Homo sapiens: one gene and its partner. The protein of the gene in region 2 purifies or fractionates together with the protein of the main gene of each other region. This does not show direct contact. Each region holds a gene or a part of one and is shown on either strand. Other genes may lie near its edges.

What was found.
Region 1: the proteins of TAF11 (region 2) and TAF4B purify together in Homo sapiens (affinity purification with western blotting, with the first as the bait; one study listed by BioGRID). This does not show direct contact.

The regions. Positions count from the first base shown.
Region 1 is NC_000018.10:26,285,186-26,289,217, reverse strand, and holds part of TAF4B (transcription initiation factor TFIID subunit 4B), read right to left. Parts: intron 3,337-4,032; coding exon 2,719-3,336; intron 1-2,718. UniProt on the Homo sapiens protein: Cell type-specific subunit of the general transcription factor TFIID that may function as a gene-selective coactivator in certain cells.
Region 2 is NC_000006.12:34,878,043-34,881,542, reverse strand, and holds part of TAF11 (transcription initiation factor TFIID subunit 11), read left to right. Parts: intron 1-1,166; coding exon 1,167-1,254; intron 1,255-1,479; coding exon 1,480-1,576; intron 1,577-2,822; coding exon 2,823-2,953; 3' UTR 2,954-3,500. UniProt on the Homo sapiens protein: The TFIID basal transcription factor complex plays a major role in the initiation of RNA polymerase II (Pol II)-dependent transcription.

The DNA of each region.
Region 1 (4,032 bases), on a different chromosome or scaffold from region 2:
TAATAGATTCACTGATGGTATTCTTTAATTACTTTCAAACGAGTAATATTAATTTTCTAACTTAGTTTATTTGAAAGAATGCCCTAGTTCAATCTTCTCTATGGCATTACCATATAGAATGGTTTATGTTGTTTTGCTCCAGGTAAATCTGTTGTGAAATAAATTACAATCTGTCTTCAGGGTCTGGCCACTCTGGCTCTTGCCACTTTAAACAGGTAGGTGTAAATACTAACATCAAATTTACTGGCTAAACTTGAAACAAAGGACAAACAAGAAAGCAGAATTCACAGGGAAAATGAAATTATTAAAAATGAAGGTAGGAAGTAAAAAAACCCTAAAATTTACCATCAAATTTTGTTGCATTATTTCTTTATTGAAATGATTTATAATGTATAACAAGTCAAACCTACAAAACAAAAATGCTGTCAAGATATTATCATGAGACAGCTTCCTGCTTCAGGACATTCCAGAAACCTAGAAGTTCTTTCTAAGAGCACCATACCCTAATGGAAAAGTCATCTGGGTTCTAGTCTGAGATCCATTACTTGACTGTTTTTTGTTTTGTTTTGTTTTTGTTTTTTTGAGATGACGAGTTTCGCTCGTCACCCAGGCTGTAGTGCTGTGGTGCGATCTTGGCTCACTGCAACCTCTGCCTCCCGGGTTCAAGCCATTCTCCTGCCTCAGCCTCCCAAGTAGCTGGGATTACAGGTGCCCACCACCACACCTGGCTAATTTTTGTATTTTTAGTAGAGACGGGGCTTTGCCATGTTGGGCAGGCTGGTCTCAAACTCCTGACCTCAGGTGATCCGCCCGCCTCGGCCTCCCAAAGTGCTGAGATTACAGGCATGAGCCGCTGCGCCCGGCCACTTAACTGTTACTGGATGAGTCAGCTCAGAATTTCTGGATTCTTAGTTTTCTCCCTACCTTTTTATCATAAAATTATTTTAAAATCCATAGCATATAATGACATGCTTTTAAAACTATGTAGCTATAAAGTATTATTTCACCCCAGGGACCTATATGCTATAGATGCTCAATAAAGATTAGCATTGATTCAAGAAACAACTATGACATATAAAGAGGATTTCAATTCTGTTCAGTGCTACCAAAAAGAGGCCTTTCCTTGGGGCAATTCCTCTATTCCAGTGGTTCTCAAACCTGGCTGCCCAGAACAATGTTTAAGAATCACTGCTTCTAAAAATGTTGTTTCATCTCTGAGATTAAATTCACGTACCCAAGAGAAATCCTGCAAGGCAGTTACATTTCCCCACTTGAAAATGAGATGCAGAGTGGGAAGGGATGAGAAAAGATTAGTGCCCAGGAAATGACCATCATTTATCTGCTCAAGAGTCTGACTACTCTCCAATTCTGGTCACGGATCAACCCCTTTCATTCTATGTCCAAAGCTGCCCTGTTGCCTCAGACGACAATCACTCAGATACCTCTTATTCTGATAAAACAAACAGGGCTGGAAAGGCTACCCAAGAAGCAGAATGAACCAAAACAGAGATTTAAAACACAGCGTCTAATGCAAAGCATTACAAAAGAGAACAAGGACATTCACCAAAAGAACAGCAAGCTCTGTTATCGTAGAAGATAGGGAAGAACTTTACTAAAAACGTTATGATTTTTAATTAATGCATCATGTAGTATCTCCCATGAGTTAACAATACTTTCATAGCCTTCTGGTAAAACTTACCTTTTCTTAAATAAAGAAGAACATTCTAAACACTAATCGACAAACAGCTAAAATTTCCTTCTTTCACCCAAGAACCTCCCAACCTACCAAGTTTAGCAAAAAAACACAACAATCAGACAAAACAAAGGACTATTCTGCAAATATTCTGGGCACTTAAAACATTACAATATAATAAACAACCACAAAAAGCTAGAGAAGTATTCTAGATTAAATGAGCCAGGTACAGTGGCTCATGCCTGTAATCCTAACATTTTGGGAGGTCTAAGTCGAGAGGAACAGTTGAGGCCAAGAGTTTGAGACCAGCTTGGGCAACACAGCAAGACCCTCTCTCTACAAAAAAATAAAAATAAAAACACATTATTGGGACAACTACAGAAATACTGTACCAATATTAATTTCCTGTGTGTGACAACAGGTATGTTGTGGTTATGTTTTACAAAAAAAACCTTTTAGGAGATATACACCATGCACTGTCATAATTTTTGCAACCACTCTCAGGTGGTTCAGTAAAGACTTACGTGTGTGTTTGCTGCTGGGCGTGGTGGCTCATTGCCTGTCTGTAATCCCAGTGCTTTGGGAGGCCAAGGCGGGTGGATCATTTAAGGCCAGGAGTTCAAGACTAGCCTGGCCAACATGGAGAAACTCCATCTCTAACAAAAATACAAAAATTAGAAAGGCGTGGTGGTGCACACCTGTAATTCCAGCTACTCAGGAGGGTAAGGCATGAGAAATGCTTGAACCTGGGAGGTGGAGGTTACAGTGAGCCGAGATCGTGCCACTGCACTCCAGCCTGGGCGACAGAGTAAGACTCTGTCTTTAAAAAAAGGACTTATATGTGTGTTTGTGGGTGTGAGTAGAAAGAGGAAAACAAAGCAAATGAGGTAAAAAAAAAAAAAAATTAATTGGTCAAACCCGTAAACAGTATATAGCCTTACTAGTTTTCTACTAGTCTTACCAGTTTTCTGAATGTTCAAAATTTTCAAAATAAGTAACTGGGGAAGAAACAAAATGTTACTCACTAGTTGCTTGACTTGAACTGCCTGTGGAATCCCAGCTGGTTGTGAAAGGACAGGGCCCGGCTGGGCAAGTTTGATTTGAACTGGAGTCCCAATAACAGGCTTGTCAGATGTGGTCCCAGCAGAAGAAACAACAGGTTTCACAGATGGAAGACAAATAGCTGCACCTGAAGTTTCTCCAAAAGTTACTGCTGGAAGGGACAGTGTTACTGCTGTTCCAGAGACAACTGGCTTTTCAGGTTGCAGTGAGACCGTGGTCACTGTGTTTGCCACAGATGTCACAAGTGGTTTTGAAGTCTGAAGCAAACCAGTTCCAGCTGTTGTTCCTCCTGTTGCAGCAGTTGGGCCCACAGAATGAAGTGTCACAACTCCAGCTTTTGCTCCCACTGGACCAGCAAGTGGGTTCAAAGTTTGCACTGACACAGTTCTGGGTGCTGTTGCTCCAGAAACAATAATTGACTTTTCAGACTGGCTTGAGGACACTGTAGTTGTCACCACAGGAGAAGTTGTTACTGTTGTAGTACAGGTAGCAATGACCATGTCACTAGAAGTCTGCTGAACACATTGCTGGATGAAGCTCTGGGAGTTAGGCAGAAGTTGTCGTAAGGCAACCACGCTTTTCTGGAAATGCAGAGGAATGGAAAAAAACACTGCTAACAAATCAGCTACTTGTGAAACAAAATGTGGTATTTCATACCTTTACAACTTAAAACCAATCAAAAGTGTATCAAGTATTTCAGTTGAAGACAGCTTGTATCACTTACTTATATCCTGCCAATATCCAGGATACAATCAATTTAAAGCCCAAGTGCCTGTTTTCCAATATGAAATTACTATATCTCAGTATTAAACTTATTTGTATTCCCTCAATATCAATTTGGTAAACACTGTATTATACTTTTCTATAATCATCTAAACCCTATAATAGATCATTAGTAACTTCAGTATCTATAAGTTTATTTAAACCACAGCAGAATCTAGGTCTCTTCATTAAGTAACTTTCAAACTTTGGATAGAAATAGGTGCAGTGGCTCATGCCTGTAATCCCAGCACTCTGGGAGGCCAAAGTAAGCAATCACTTGAGGCCAGGAGTTTGAGACCAGCCTAGGCAACATGGCAAAACCCCATCTATACAAAAAATACAAAAATTAGTCAGGCGTGGTGGCACACACGTGTAGTCCCAGCTACTCGGGAGGCAGAGGTTGCAGTGAGCTGAGATCATGCCACTGCATTCTAGCCTGGGTGACAGAGCAAGACCCCATCTCCAAAAAAAAAAAAAACAAAAAAAAAAAGGAAAGGAAGAAATAGTCTTTAAAA
Region 2 (3,500 bases):
ATGTCACTAATTATACATCTAGGTCATAGTTTTCTTAAAAATAGAAATAGCTTTATTACATTTTCTGATTGTAAAAGTAGTATGGGCTCATTGCAAATAATTCAGAGAATACAGAAAAATAGAAAAAAATCACCCATAAACTCACCACGCAGAGTTCACTCTAAGTATATAGTTGGGTATAATGTTTGGGTATGTACCTTTTCAAAGTTTTTTTAGATGTTTGATATGTATAGCTAAATATTTTCATGTCAGTAAATATGCTCATAAATCATAATTTTTAATGGCTACATTGTATCCCATTATGTTGTTGAACTATAATTTAACCAATCCCTATAGTGCTTCTGGTTGGGTATTTTTACTTTTGACATTATGATGAGGATCTTTGGACATATCTTTGCATACTTGTCCATTACTTCCTAAGATAAACTCCTAGAGGTGTAATTGCTAATTCAAATAGTATGAACATTTTCAAAGGCTTTTCATATGTATTTCCAAATTTCTCTCCAAAAAGGTGTTCCAGTTCACTCTGCCAGCATGTGTTTGTGTCCCATATTCTAATACCATTCTTTTTTTAATAGTGGTCTGATTTATGAAAAATGTTATCTATGAAAATAATATTTCCTTAGTTAATAATGAAGGTTGTTTCCCCCATGTTGATTGACCATTGGTATTTTGGTAAATTTCCTGTTCATGTACTTTGTTCATTTTCAAAAATTGACATGGCCCCTTTATTCATTTGAAAGAATTATACATTAGGAGTATTAACTGTTTCCACATATTTTGCAGATATTTCCCCTAAATCTGTTAATGTTGAAAACTACTGGTTTGATTATAAATTTGTATATTAAATTTTTACCATCAGTGTGAAATTCAATAAGATAGAGTTATGGAGATAGTGTCTAATGCTGCAAACAGTCTGTGTAGTACGATACAGTGACCCAGTGTTGTTCTTTTTGTTAACAGGTAAGAAAAGAAGTTTTTGTTTTACGTTTTCTCAAATTCCTTTGGAGTAGAAGTGTTTTATCTTCATTCCTCAAGGCACCAAGCCTAATGCCATTGACCCCTTTAAGAATTCGTTTTTGAATTGTCTGAAACTTTTATTGACTTCATAATATCTTGAGTATTCGTTCTTATAAGTTAACTTAGTTACCTGGATCTTTGTTTAGAATCCTGGTTTCTTCTTTTTCTGAGGAGCAGCTGAACCGTTATGAAATGTATCGCCGCTCAGCTTTCCCTAAGGCAGCCATCAAAAGGGTAAGGATGGACCACCACACTTCATCTCCATCACGTTTTAGAACTGAACTCAAGAGCCATGTCCATTGGCATTTGAAGTGAGGTGTTAGACAAGTCAGGGGATTATTTAGGTGGGAAAAAAAATGCACTTCAGTTATCTTACCTTTTTCTGTGAATTACTTGGTACTGTGTTCCAAAGCCAGTCTTTGACTATTGTGATCACGGAGTCTTTGTGCTTCTTTCAAGCTGATCCAGTCCATCACTGGCACCTCTGTGTCTCAGAATGTTGTTATTGCTATGTCTGGTATTTCCAAGGTTTTCGTCGGGGAGGTGGTAGAAGAAGGTGAGTAGTGTTGGTTACAAATACTGGATTGTACCTGTGGTGGTCTTATTTTTAAGAATATCTACACAAAGGAGCTTATTAAAGCACCTATGGGAGTTCTCATTTGCACTTGAAGTTGACCAAGTGGGGAGCCCTTTATTTAGGAGAACATGACTGTTATTCCTTGCAAGTTTCAATAACAGATGGTAAGGAACCATCTGGGAAATCCCCTCCCTGATTCCTTTCCTCAGCCCAGGGTGAAAGAAGTAGACTTTGTATTTTCTGCAGTGGACTTTGCTCATTTCTGCTGCCAAAAGTAAAGATACAAGAAAAGCAATCACAGGGGTGACCTGTGTGGGATGGTGAGTTGTCCCTAATGTTGTGATCCCTAGGAACTGCCTGACCCCTTTATTGAGTAAAAAGCCTGGCTGTTTCCCATTGCTACTCTAGCTGGTGAAATTTTTTTTTTTTTTTTGAGCAGGAGATATATACTTTTAAATTATTATTATTTTTTGAGACAGGGTCTCACTCTGTCACCCAGGCTGGAGTGCAGTGGCATGATCTTTATTATTTTTTTTAATATTTTTTATTTTTCCTTTTACAAATCACAAATTAAGATGGTATACAAAATGAGATGGTAACAGTGGTGTGATCATAGCTCACTACAACCTCAAACTCCTGGGCTCAAAGGATCCTCTTGCCTCAGCCTCCCAAGTAGCTGGGACTGTAGGCGTGCACTACCATACCTGGCTAATTTTTAATTTTATTTTTATGTAGTTATTTGAGACAGGGTCTCACTCTGTCACCCAGGCTGGAGTGCCTTGATCATGCGATCACAGCTCACTGTAACAGTTAGCTCCTGGGCTCGGGTGATTCTCCTGCCTCAGTCTGAGTAGTTGAGACCACAGGTGCGCACCACCACCCCTGGCTAACTTTTTAATTTTTTGTAGAGACAAGGTTTGGCCATGTTGCCCAGGTTGGTCTCGAACTCCTAGGCTCAAGCAATCCTCCCACCTTGGCCTCCCTAACTGCTGGGATTATAGGCATGAGCCACAGCATATGGCCTATAGGAAATATATTTTAAACTGTTGTCTATGATAAAGCCTGTTATGAGACGTTATACTAATATTCTCTTAAAAAGGAAAAATGTCTGTTTATTTCCTTAGCAAGCTTAAGAAAAGTTAACAAGAATTACAGGACTCAAAAGGATTATGTGATTAGTAAATTATTGTGTGATAATCAGACTTTCTCCTTACCCTCTGTTTAGCACTGGATGTGTGTGAGAAGTGGGGAGAAATGCCACCACTACAACCCAAACATATGAGGGAAGCCGTTAGAAGGTTAAAGTCAAAAGGACAGATCCCTAACTCGAAGCACAAAAAAATCATCTTCTTCTAGACCAAAGTCTAGAAAGGCCTATGTTACTGACGGAAGAAGTATTGGTTCCAGACTTCCTATAAGACTGTCTGCATTGGTGCTTTAGTATCTCAGGCCTCCAAGGATTCCATGATGATTTTAATGTCTTTCTCAAAACTCTGATATTTGTCACACCTAGAAAGTATGTAGCCTGATTGATACTTGCCTTGACTAAATTTTGGGACCTCTTGGGGCATTTTGAAGTATTTAACTGTCTTGACCAGTTGGAAGAAGATACGTGGGCCATAAGCATCTTCTGGACAGGGGAACTGCTTTCAGAGAGAAAACCTTTCCAAGAGAGTTTTGTTTTGTTTTGGTTTCGTTTTGTTTGAGATAGGGTCTTGCTCTATCACCTAGGCTGGAGTGCAGCGGCATGACTGCAGCCTTGAACTCCTGGGCTTAAGTGACCCTCCCACCTCAGTCTCCTGAGTAGCTAGGACTACAGGCACACACTACTGTGCCCAGCTAACTTATTTTTATTTTTTATGGAGATGGGGTCTTGCTTTGTTGCCCAGGCTGGTCGTGAACT